2 linked regions of the Homo sapiens genome follow. The protein of the gene in region 2 binds, or shares a complex with, the protein of the main gene of each other region. Each region holds a gene or a part of one and is shown on either strand. Other genes may lie near its edges. A codon is read from its position in the direction of its gene.

Region 1 (7,123 bases), on a different chromosome or scaffold from region 2:
AAAAGTAGGACTAAAATCTTTAATCAAACAAAAGAGAAGCCTGTAACAGTGTAGAACACACATTTTGAATCTGAGCATCACAAATGAAGAAAAGAAAAATGAACCAGAGCCAAGTTGGTTTATCGGCCTCGGGTGCTGTAATTGGGGTGGTAAAGGTGGGTTTACTCCAGTAACCATTCAAGTGGGGATTGGCTCATTTTCAGGATTTACTTACAGGTCTCTTCTAAGTCCTTTAAGCCCCCAGTCCATGCAAATGTCCCACTTGGTGGACAGATGAGTAATCTAACCCCACCGGGTTTATTTCAATATTTCGATATTTCAATAATAAGCTGCTTCTGAAGATTTTTTGAGAAGTCTGTTCTCTATTAAAATAAGATAGAACCTCAAAATATGAATGTGAACATTAGAAATAGACAGCATATATTACAAATCCATTCTTGATAGGAACATTAGTAAGAATACACATTAGCTTAAAAAACAGGCTCAGCAAATGTTGCTGATCTGCCAAAAGTTTTAGTTCACTATTTACAAATAAGACAAAGTGAAATACAGAAAATTTTACACATTTGGTAGTTGACAGATACTGTTTGCCAATAGTGGTCTATCAGAAAACTGACATGAAGGAAGACTGGAAAAGAGCCAGTTGTCACCTTCTCAAATTTAAATGTACAGAAAACTAGATTAATTTTGAAACAAACATTCTGCCTTTCATGGGAATAACTGTATGATCACATGATTTGATTGGGAAGTACAATTGTGAGGAAGTGTTTTCTGGAAACAACTACTATAACTCTAAATAATCCACTAATGAAAAGTTACCATTTTTGTTTCAGTAGACCATTGAAGTTGATTAAATGATAACTAGTGGTAGTGTTTCCTAAACCCTAAGTATGAGTAGAAAATAAAACCATTGCTGAGTTCTTTATATCAATTTAAAAACTAAGACCCAACAGCATAAAAATGAGAAAAAACATAATGGCATGATTCAATGCAAATCTGCACTGACATTAAAGTAGAATCTGAGCTACTTGGGTTTTTAACTAGAAAACAACCTGATATGTATGTGTGTGAAGGGGGAGGGTTAAAAGTTGTTTTAATAACTGTGCGACCTAGTCCAAAAAGAAAATTTATCAAGTGACACGAGTCTCAAGTATTTACTCGTATACCAAGTATCCTGCACCAATCAATAGCACACAATCATCAATATTTGCCATTTCTAACAATCAGAGAATCATCTCCATTAGAACAGAAATCCTCAAATCATTTCACTTTTGCTTTTTGCTTTGAAACTTGCAAACAGACTTCTCTCCCCCTTTCTTGACAAGAATGTGTTTCTGTCCATTATTTCAATCTAATACTGTGTAAAAGCTATCAGCTTCTTCAAGGAGGTGCCCACTGTAGGCAGGATATTCCAGCAACACTTAAAAGTTTTCTGGGTTTTTTGTGTTTTTTTTTTTTTTTTCGTTTTTTTTTTTTTAAACAATTGATTTAAATCCATGTCATTTTACTTTATATGTACTGGTCTCTCATCTGACTTTAGGCGTTTTCTGCGGGGCTGTATAAAGTCTTCATCAGAGTCCTCAGTTACCTCACCATCATCCTCTTCCTGCTCAAACTCTGGCAAAGGTGCGAAGGTCCTGTCTGAGTAGATCTCTGTGAGTTTATCTTCAAAGTACAATGCAACTGCTTTCCCTGCCTGAGCTACTTCTGAATCAGCCTGCAAGCAAAAGATAGGAATATTCACCTATTGGTAATGCATATTCCTTCACCAAGTTTGCATGGTCTGAAAAGCTTACCTTCAAATTAATCTCTTGTGTGTCTGCATAAACTTGAACAACTTTCATCATCTAAAAAGGATACCAGAGTCAAAAAAAAAAAAGGGAAATTATAATCCTTTCTAAAGTTATGAGACTGCATAGGATTGGCGACGAAAAGTCAGCCATACTAGGGAGAACAAATTGCTATAACCAGATAAAGTGCTTTTCTAAAATTCTACAGAACATGGAACCATTTTCTTTACAAAGCCCTGTTACTAAAGCTACTGTGAAACCTCAGTAATTGTCTTATTTTGAATTATCAAGGTCAATCTGAATAGGAATTGGTCTGAACACATCAATCTATCCAAGAGAAAAATATTTGTGAAGCATATTATACAAGAAACGTTGCTTTAAAAAACTGACAAACTTTCAACAAACCACTTAATAAAAATTCTATCTGTATAGCAATATGTTAATCATAAACTATTTATTACTGAGGCAGGAAACATGGGTCTTCTTATCAACTATAGTTCATGAAAGCATATTTATTTGAAAATAATTTAACTGCACTGAAAAATAAGACAGAATTTGGGACTAAATATAACTTCAAACTAGTGAGATTTTACTAATATACTCTGTGCCATACTGCTATAAAGGTGACTTAGAATTTTCACCTTATGAGGATTTTGTTTTGTTTTTGATTTTAAAATGCCATCTGGATGCTTCCAGAGGCAGCTATAGGAATACGTTACAGGATCCAATGTGATTTATTTTAGTAATAATCATATGGCACCCAAATTACACCAGCAATAAAGAGACTTTAGTATTAATCTTTTAAAAGATTTTGTGGATTCTCATTAAATTCCATTTTCTTCTCCTACAATGAAACTCTTCCATAACAATAATAGAATCGATTTTATCCCTAATAAAAACAATTTCCCTGAAACAGGTATATAATACATTTCTTCTCAAGGCATGGCTAACTCAAACTTACCCTCAAAAAAAAAAAAAAAAACAAAACAAAACAAAACAAAAAACAAAAAACTCCCCAAACCAAAAAACATAACCAAAATTAATCAAAGTCACACTGCTGAAATAAGAAAACTTAGTATTATATACTCTGGGCTACTATTCAAGATGGGTCACCAGAGATTAGTTTGTTATTTTAAGGTTCTACATTCATGTTGTCAATAATAAAATGCAAGGACATGGGTACAGATAACTTTCCTAATAGTACCCAAAACGTAAGCTGTTTATAATCATATTCCACAAAATATACGTAACTACTGACAGTACTTTCCATACTTATGCCAATCCTCAACTCATTTAGAAAAGGATATTTGATAATATTCTTAATTTATTATATTTAAGTATATACTCCAAATTATACACAATAAATTTTCTTCACTGGAGCTGTTAATACAATCAGATGTTACTTTTGACAGGACTTTAGCAGAAAAAAAAATTTTAATAAAATTAAAGTCAGCAGAAAAATAAAACAAGGAAACAAACAAAAACTAACAAATCAAGACTCTATAGGTTGGAAGTTAACATACTTCATTAAACCTTTCACAGTTCTTGAAGATCAAACGGACATCGGCCACAAAGTCATCCGGGATTTGGTAGTGTTGGGAATGTTTTTTCTGAAGCTTCTTTTTCACGGTGGATAAATCCATTGGTTTCTTTATAATTTTATAGTAGTTTGGTATCTAAAATAAGCACATAATGGCAAATAAGAATTCTCCAAAAATGCCAAACTGTTTAATTTGAAAATGCATAGCATATTAATTTTAGGGAAAAAAATTATTATAGAGCCAGCTGCTTGCAAATTTTGAGTATAGACGTATGTACTTTACATCTTCATGAAAACCAAATCTTATGTGGCATATGTGCCAATCTTCATGGTTAGTCCAAGTCCCCAAAGTCCTACTTTTAATAATAAGATTTGGAAAGAAAGCAATTAGCAAGGGTAACCAACCAGTAGCCTTGAGGCAACATTTGACTTACCAGAATTTTATGACTCCTTAGGAGTTTTTCTTTTTTTTTTAAAGAAAAAAATTTACAAAATATATTAATGTTACAATTAGAATATGATGTCTTTTGGAAAACATAACAGGGAATATCATTTACATCACGAAGTCTTGACTTAGTAACAGAGGAAGTAAGACTAAGAACATAAGAAAAATTTACTAACTTTATTAACCATTTAGTGTTCACGCTAGGGAATTCTGACCCCAACTCTGGCGAAAAATTTCTACCCTTGGGATAAAAGTAAAGTTAGAGAAGCTATTTTATTGACTGATTGACTAATTGATTTTTGAGATGGAGTCTTGCTCTGTCGCCCAGGCTGGAGTGCAGTGGTGCAGTGGCGCCAACTGTGGCTCATTGCCACCTCCATCCCCTGGCAATTATCCTGCCTCAGCCTCCCTAGCAGTTGGGATTACAGGCATGCACTACCACGCCCGGCTAATTTTTATATTTTCAGTAGAGAGGGGGTTTCACCATGTTGGCCAGGCTGGTCTTGAACTCCTGAACTCAAGTGATCTGCCTGCCAGGCCTCCCAAAATGATGGGATTACAGGCATGAGCCACCATGCCCGGCCAAGAAGCTACTTTAATAGTCCATAAAAAGAAAACATTTGAAAGTCATTTTCTACTTTAAAATCCCTGCACTTAAAGATGAGACAAATTTTCCAGAAACAGATGATTACTGCTTGTACAAAACATCTTCCTTCTGTCTATACCTTTTGTGATTTAAAATTCATTTCTCAGGCTACCCAGTAAACAAGTCAACTACCATTTAATATTCTCTAACAGGCCTGGTATGTAATAATGTACTATTCAACAACTGATGGCTAGCAATAAAATGTGTGTAGAATATTCTTACCCCACTTATTAGGCACCAAACACCTCTAATCTTCCTTTTATTGCAGCATTTTAGAGCCTTTATTCCTTACAAAACTCAATGACTATAGACTATGCTAAATATTTTACATAGGTTATTTTATATAATCCTCAGAACAACCCAATGAGGTAAAAAATCGTGTCAGAAAACTTGAGTCTTAGAGAGGTTGAAGAGCTTATTCCAGAAGGCTGAGGTGTAATACAACTTAGTCTAAGGCCATACTCTTTTTTTTTTTTTTCTTTTTTTTTTTGAGACGGAGTCTCGCTCTGTCGCCCAGGCTGGAGTGCAGTGGCGCGATCTCGGCTCACTGCAAGCTCCGCCTCCCGGGTTCATGCCATTCTCCTGCCTCAGCCTCCGGAGTAGCTGGGACTACAGGTGCCCGCCACCGTGCCCGGCTAGTTTTTTGTATTTTTAGTAGACACGGGGTTTCACCGTGGTCTCTATTTCCTGACCTCGTGATCCGCCTGCCTCGGCCTCCCAAAGTGCTGGGATTACAGGCGTGAGCCACCGCGCCCGGCCGCCAGAGCCCATACTCTTAAGTATTATGAGACTTCCCCACCGAGCTACTAAGGTAGGCAACTCACCGAAGCAGGAACAGGCTCCTGGAATTCAATACTTAATTCATGGCAATAGAGGTAAAGCAGAAGACGTTCACATTTCTGGCCCAAACAAGGAAAGGAAAGCACATGAAATATTTTTCTCCTAATAAAACATTCTCGAGAATGAGAACTATATCACAACAAAGTTTGATTACAACAAACTGAACACAAGCCCCCTGTTTACTAGATACTCAACTAAACATAAACACCCAAAGAAAATTCCCTTGCTTCTCATTTTGTTTTCAGACTATCTTTTGTTCTACTTTAAGTAAGAATGGAAGATAACTAAGGTAATTTATGGAAGGGAGTCACAAAAGCAACATCTAACACTTTGTGCAAAAATTTATAAATTACTTGGTAATAAATAAATAAGTAAATAAATTATCACTGTTGCTCCTCATGGTAATTCCTTAGACAGGCAAGACAAATGTTGAAAGTTATCATCCCCTTTCTTCAAATGATTCCAGTCAGGTTCAAAATGAAAATGGCCTTCTCAGTCTAACTCCAAAAATATTTTTTTACCCAATCATGAGTAAACTGAAATGCATTTTACATTCACAGTCTTCTATTTATCTAAACTTCTTTTAATACAAGTTTGTATACCCTAAACACGTATCTTGTCTTCACAGATAGTGGATGAGGGTTTTTACCAGTATATACACCAGAGTAGAGCCAAACTTAACTCTAATGACCACACGACAATGCAAAAGAGTCTGTCTTTGGCAATCAGACTACAGGCCAGATTGGTAAAAATCTGAGTAAAGTAAGGAGAGAGTTTCCATTTTTAATATGATGAGAAGCTATTAGAGGATTTTAAGCAAGGAAATGATAGACTTGTTTACTTTTTTAAAAAGAACACTGTTTAATACAGAAAACAAACTATAAAGGTCAAGAGCAGAAGCGGGGAGAGCAGTTAAGAGATCACTACAATAGTCCAGATGAGAAATTATGATGTAAGGTAAGAAAATCATATTATAGTTATTATTATTTCATTTCTAATAGGTTTCTAACCTGAGCAACAGAAATGAATGGTGGTATCATTCAATTAAGGGGAATACTGGGGGAGGAATACAGTTTTTTATGTCGTTATTTGCTTGGTTTTGTGCTTGGAGGGAGAGGATTAGAAATTAAGATTTTAGTTGGGACATGTTAAGTTTGAGGAATCTGGATAGAAGGGTCTGTAGTTCAGGGTTAGAGGAAAAAAAGACTTCAGAAATCATCAATATACCATCAGATGACAGGATTAAAAATTAAATGTTATCAGGTTTTGTGTATGCTACACAGGAAAAAAAAAGGTGTATATATAGGCAGACAACTACTGAATCCCAGTGACAAATCAACTTATTTGACACTTACCCTTTGGTCCACGGGGCTTAACCCCTGCGCAGTTTTCCCCTTCTTACTATGTTGCAAATTATCACAATCATATTCAACTTCTGGCTTTCCAATATCTCTACAAAATGTGCATATCCAGTCCCCACTAGACAGGGAAATAGGCAATTAGTCCACGTAATTATAAGAAAGCCTGCTCTAGAGAAGCTACTTCCCTGGACTGGGGCCTGGTTTATTTTCTTAATAATTTTTTGAAAAAAGGGAGGTTTTATAGTTGTGAAATCTCGTCAGGTGAAGTCATGTGATTAAAAACTCCTCTAAATTTTCCTAGTCACGCATCAATTGATTACTTTCTGGAATGCATTATAAAAATGGCACCTCCGCATTAAAAGGGGGTCTCTTAGTAGTGATGAGCAGTACTTGCAGCATAAGGCCTAAGACCAATTCTCTCAGATCCCAGTATCACCATTATGTGGACTCAGTTATTTATGAAGAAGAAGAGCACAGGTTGCAGAGTTTCTCAGGTATCTT
Region 2 (5,633 bases):
CCACACTTTAACTTTTTCTATATGCAGCTCCGTGTTTCACAGACTGCTCCTGCTGGTTTGCTATGAACAAACATTGATCTCTACTTTCTAAAATGTGAAAATACTCTTTATCCACAGTCGCTTCACATTACGGGAGGCAGAAAAACCAGTGTAGGTCTGTTTGTGGGTGGAAAAGGGAGAGAGGCAGCCTTTAGAAGTCCGATGCAGTCCATCACCAGCAGTTCAGTGTCCTAGAACGTGGTCATGGCCGTAGCCATGGCTGGAATGACCCAGGTCTTGGTCTGGGAGCTGGTAGGAGAGGCACTGGAGATGTGTGAGATGTGGGGAGACACGCACCTGCTGCAGCCCAAGCCTTTCACAGGGGACAGCCCAGGGCCCATTACCCCAACATCGAGAAAAAAAAAAAAAACCCCATCTTCCTCCAGATCCCAGCCCAGATAGAAAGGCCTGATTTTAGAGGAGAAAGTACTGCTTCTAGTCTTTCTATGAGAGCACACTTTCTATGCTGGAGCTTCAGTATCTCAGCCCATCCTGGACTTACCCGTGATTTAACATCTTTCTTACATCTTACATTGGTTACACCCAGATGAAGGCAGCAGCCTGTTTGATCATCCCTTTCAATCATATTTGTATCTCAGACCGTGCACAGTGGCTTATTCCTGTTATCCCAGCATTTTGGGTGGCCGACCTGGCAAATCACTTGAACTAGAGTTCCAGACTGCCTCTCTTTAAAAAAAAAAAAAAAAAAAAATTAGCTGGGCGTGGTCACTAGTTCCTGCTGTTTCACCTACTCATTCTGGAGTGTGTGGTAGGAGAATTGCTTGCGCTTCAGAGGTGGAGGTTGCAGTAAGCAGAGATGGCGCCACTGCCCTCACACCTGGCCAACAGAGTGAGACCCTGTCTCAAAATTAGTAACAATCATCACCATCATATTTGGAGCTCTGAGGTCCACGCATGCTCAGGCATTGTTCTGGTGCTTCCTGGTTGAGAGAAGAATGGTGCATTAGCCTCGAGAATCCTGTGAATGGGGAGCTGTTTTTACAAAGAGAAAAGAAACTCTTTTCAGAGACTGTGATGAAATCACACTGAATTCTGAAGTTGCTATGACTTAGGATGTTTTTGCTCCTATATGATTTGTAGGAGATACAACAGAGTCGTCCCTTATAATACTTTTTCCTGAAGGCCCTGGCTTTCTAAAAGCATTGGAATAGTTCCCCTTATAAACATTTATACTTTTCATAACTTTGCCCAGGGAATCAACAGTTTTGAACTTGCAAAAATAAAAATTAAATTAAATACCAGATTTTCCTCTACAATGATTTTTTTCACGTTCTGGCCCAAATTGCTTCATGTCAGAGAGCAATCTTTGAGGATGTTAGAATGGTAACACACTCTAGGAGCCATATGGAAATCTAGACAGAGAAACGCAGACCAAAGAAACCCTGTCTAACTTCTGCATTCATTTCCACACCTTCACCTCCAAAGAACTGGTCCCAAGGTAACCTTTGTTTATGACTGAAATAACATACTGATCTCTGTTTTGTCCTTCTCTAAAATGGAAATGCATATAATAATAATATATTTTATTTTAGATAATATTCCATTTTTACTTTATTTTTCAAATGATTAAGAAATACAGAAATTAAAAACAAAATTTGCTCTCTCTGTAGGATTTGAACATTAAATATTTTGTATAACTGAACCCTATTTGTCATTATATGAACAAGTAATTGATCATATATCTTGAATATAAGATAAACTGTAACAAATGTATAGCAACAATAAAATGGAGTTCCAGTTTTCAGGATGGCCCATAAAAAAAGATTCCATGTCATTACTCTGTCTTAACAATCAGTAAAAAGCTGAAAAAGCAAAAAAATCTATATCTCTTTGACATCTGTCTGAGTGGTGCTGTCATAGGGCAAACCATAGAGAAAATAAAAAAATCCATGCCTTCCTTGCTTCAAAGTATTCTATCAAGCTGTAGGAACAAAAATGGCATAAGAATGGCATCAAAACAGAAATCAAAGCCAATGGAACAGAGCAGAGAGCCCAGAAATCCCTCCAAATGTGTACAGCCAATTACATTTTTACAAACGTGCCAACAACACACAATGACAAAAGGACAGTCTCTTCCATCAGTGGTGATAGGAAACTGGGTATCTACAGGCAGGAAAATGAAATTGGGCCCTAATCTCTTGCCATACACAAGAATCAACCAAAATATAGTCAAAACTTTAAACTATGAGCCTACTAGAAGAAAACAGGGGACATCCTCATTGACATTGGTTAAGCCAATAATTTTTGAAATATGTCCCAAACACATGGGCAGCAAAAGGGAAAATAGACAAATGGATTGCATCCAAATGAAAAAAAAATTCTGCACAGTAAAAGAAATAATTAACACCATGAAGAGACAAAATCATCGTGAGAAAAAATACTTGCAAACACTATATCCAATAAGGCATTAATTAGTTACTGTTCAAAATATACCATGAACTCAAAGGACTCAACAGCAAGAAACAACACAATTTTAAAACTGGGCAAAGGACCTAAATAATAGACATCTCAGGAGAGAAGATATACAAGTGGCCAGCAGGCATGTATATATATATATATGCTCCATGTCACCAATCTTCAGAGAAATGCATATAAAAACTAAAAGAAGGCATCACCTCACACTCTTTAGAATGGCTGCAATCAAAACATCAAAGGACAACACTTGTTGAGGATGTGGAGGAAAGCGAACCCTTGTATTATTCCTGGGAATGTAAATTAGGGAGCCATTCTAGAAAACAGTATGGAACTTCCTCCAAAAACTACATAAATACAGCTACCATATGATCCAGCAATCCCACACTGGGAAGTGTATATGAAAAGGAAATGAAATCAGTCTATTGAAGAGATATCTATACTCCCCTGTTCATTGCAGTGCTATTTACAAGACCTAAGATAGGGAATCCACCTAAATGTCAAAAAGCAGATAACAGGATGAGGAAAATCCGATATACATACACAAGGGAATACTATGCAGCCTTAAAGAAGGAAATCTTGTCCTTTGTGTACACATGGGTGCACTTGGAGAACATCATGCTAAGTGAAATAAGCCAGGCATAAGAATACAAACACTACATGGTCTCCATGATACCTGGAATCTCACAAAGTTAATCTGATAGACGCAAAAATATAAGAAAGATGGTCGTCTGGGGCTGTGGTGGCTGGGGATGGGGAATTTGAGGAGATGTTGGTCAAAACACACAACACGTCAGTTACATGGGGGAACAAGCTCAAGAATTATTGTACAACGTGGTGACTATAGTTAACAATATACTGTTACTGGTACCAAGGTTAAAAAAAAAAAAAAAAGAGCCAGAGAGCCTCAGTGACAGGCACATAGGACCATTTGATCAAAAAGCCACAACTTTGCCTGAAGGCTACCGCAGATTCCCATGAATGTCACTTTGGGGGAGAAAAATGCCCCCAGGAGCATCCCTGTTAGAGGAGTGATCATTTAGGTTTTCCATATTTCCCTCCCCGTTTCACCTCATCCTCAGGGAACCTGAGAGACACCTCATGATCGCACCCTTGGTGTTTTGCAGCAGTCACCGATGTCGGGTAACATACAACTTTATTCAAATGTCTTTTTCATTGTAATGACTTCCATGATGGTCGTGAAATGTAAACTTTCAGAATCTCCTTGGCACCCAGAATTTTTTCTAACTCACACCTACCATCCCTCCCACGATGCACACGGCAGAGGTTCCTCCCTCTCTGGGGTGTGTGCAGAACCCAGGGACTCAAATTGGGTTTTCACAGCGCTGACGAGGTTGAGAGTCTAGTGAAGCAGTGAGTACAATGGAAGGGAGCTGGGTGAGTCTAATGCAATCATCTGAGCTCCTTATAAGAGGCAGGGCTTTACTGAGACCACAGAGATCTCCAGTCAGAAACAGACTGCCTGCGAGGGAGACTCCTGGCTGCTGCTGGGTAGACCAAGGAAACCCAAGACCTTCCGGGAAGACTAAGCAGCCCGGCCTCCGACCCACAGACCTGAGAGCTGGTAAGTGTGGGGTTGGGTTGGCAGGGGTTAAGTGTGTGGGAGAGTCCTGCGCATGGATCTCAACTCACAGGCTCTCTGAATCCTGTCCACAGCACCACTGCCCTTGTTTTCTGACGCCAGTACTGCCTGCAGCAGGCCAGGCTCAGCCTCAGAGAGGAGAGAGCACAAGGCCCCACAACATGGCGCGCACCAAGCAGACCGCCCGCAAAGCCACCGCCTGGCAGGCCCCCAGGAAGCCCCTGGCCACCAAAGCCGCCAGAAAAAGGGCGTCGCCTACAGGAGGGATCAAGAAGCCTCACCGCTACAAGCCTGGCACCCTGGCGCTGCGGGAAATCAGAAAGTACCAGAAGTCCACGCAGCTGCTCCTGCGCAAGCTGCCCTTCCAGCGTCTGGTGCGTGAGATCGCCCAGGCCATCAGCCCGGACCTGCGCTTCCAGAGCGCGGCCATTGGCGCCCTGCAGGAGGCCAGCGAGGCCTACCTGGTGCAACTCTTTGAAGACACCAACCTGTGTGCCATCCATGCCAGGCGCGTCACAATTATGCCCCGAGACATGCAGCTGGCCCGCCGCCTCCGTGGAGAGGGTGCCGGAGAGCCCACGCTCCTGGGAAACCTTGCACTCTAGAGGACTTCTTTTCTGTTTGCTTGTGTTTTCTTTTTTCTCTTCCCCCGTAACTGGTAGTTCTGATGTGAGAAGTTTTGTTCTGTTTTGGTTTCTTTTCCCTCCGGGGGTCCAAAGGTAGCTAAGCATAAGATTGCCAGTGGAAACGCAGGCAGAAATCAGGTGGCAGTTGTGTTTGTGTGTGCTTGTTAGTAAACGTCTCATCTACTTTGAGGCTCCCAAGGTACTAGTGTCAAGTGGAAATGTCTCTGTGAGCGAGTTTCAGTTCAACTCTATAAAATTATAAAGAAATCTTATTTTTTTTTCTTTACTATGTCTGCATACGGGTTCTGTAAACAAAATAAATTTCTTATTAATCTGAGCTAAAAGATGTTTATTGCATTTTATGAAACAATAGATTCCAGGTATACTTGGAGGTTTTATGTATGCAACTCTGTGTTTTCAATGTTCCCTGTCTCCTGTGATGTTTCCGCTAGTTTCCTATGAAAATACATTAAACTTCATTTTCTACAATTTAAATAGATTCTCTATTTACAAGTCAATGCACACTATGAAAGGCAGTGTGGGTAAAATCCAGTGTGGTATATCTGTGTGTTGAAGGGAGTCAGAGGCACCCATTGGGCGTCTGATGCAGTCCATCCCTGGTGGTCTAAATTCCGGAATGTGGTCAATGTCATGGCTGGAATGGTCAAGGCCTTGGACACAAAGGTTGTAGAAGAGGCTCTGGACATGTGTGAGATTTGAAAAAGAGATGCCCCTGAGAAAGCCTGCCTGCACATTCAAGTTTAAGAGCCACATTTTTATCAAGTACCAAAAAATTATGTGATTTCCAGCCCAAGACTAGAAAAGTAATCCTGTTCCTGAGGGAATAAGTACCGGCTCCATCTTCCCATGACAGAAGACTGTGTGCTGAAGCTTCCATAGCTCAGTCTACCCTGGACTCACCCTCAATTTTA

What was found.
Region 1: the proteins of H3Y2 (region 2) and TRIM33 are in contact, whole or in part, in a crystal structure (PDB 7ZDD), measured with the Homo sapiens proteins. Residues at the interface, in NP_001358848.1 of Homo sapiens: Ala2 (codon at 4,240), Arg3 (codon at 4,243), Thr4 (codon at 4,246), Lys5 (codon at 4,249), Gln6 (codon at 4,252), Thr7 (codon at 4,255), Ala8 (codon at 4,258), Arg9 (codon at 4,261); in NP_056990.3 of Homo sapiens: Asp884, Pro885, Asn886, Glu887, Asp888, Trp889, Gln894, Asn895, Gly896, Gly897, Asp898, Leu899, Leu900, Cys901, Glu903, Val908, Phe921, Pro922, Ser923, Gly924 (codon at 6,739), Trp926 (codon at 6,733).

The regions. Positions count from the first base shown.
Region 1 is NC_000001.11:114,396,144-114,403,266, forward strand, and holds part of TRIM33 (E3 ubiquitin-protein ligase TRIM33), read right to left. Parts: intron 6,741-7,123; coding exon 6,617-6,740; intron 5,321-6,616; coding exon 5,246-5,320; intron 3,467-5,245; coding exon 3,314-3,466; intron 1,848-3,313; coding exon 1,797-1,847; intron 1,718-1,796; coding exon 1,505-1,717; 3' UTR 1-1,504. UniProt on the Homo sapiens protein: Acts as an E3 ubiquitin-protein ligase. Promotes SMAD4 ubiquitination, nuclear exclusion and degradation via the ubiquitin proteasome pathway. According to PubMed:16751102, does not promote a decrease in the level of endogenous SMAD4.
Region 2 is NC_000005.10:17,490,372-17,496,004, reverse strand, and holds H3Y2 (histone H3.X), read left to right. Parts: upstream 1-3,928; 5' UTR 3,929-4,236; coding exon 4,237-4,680; 3' UTR 4,681-5,038; downstream 5,039-5,633. UniProt on the Homo sapiens protein: Primate-specific variant histone H3, which constitutes a core component of nucleosomes. Nucleosomes wrap and compact DNA into chromatin, limiting DNA accessibility to the cellular machineries which require DNA as a template.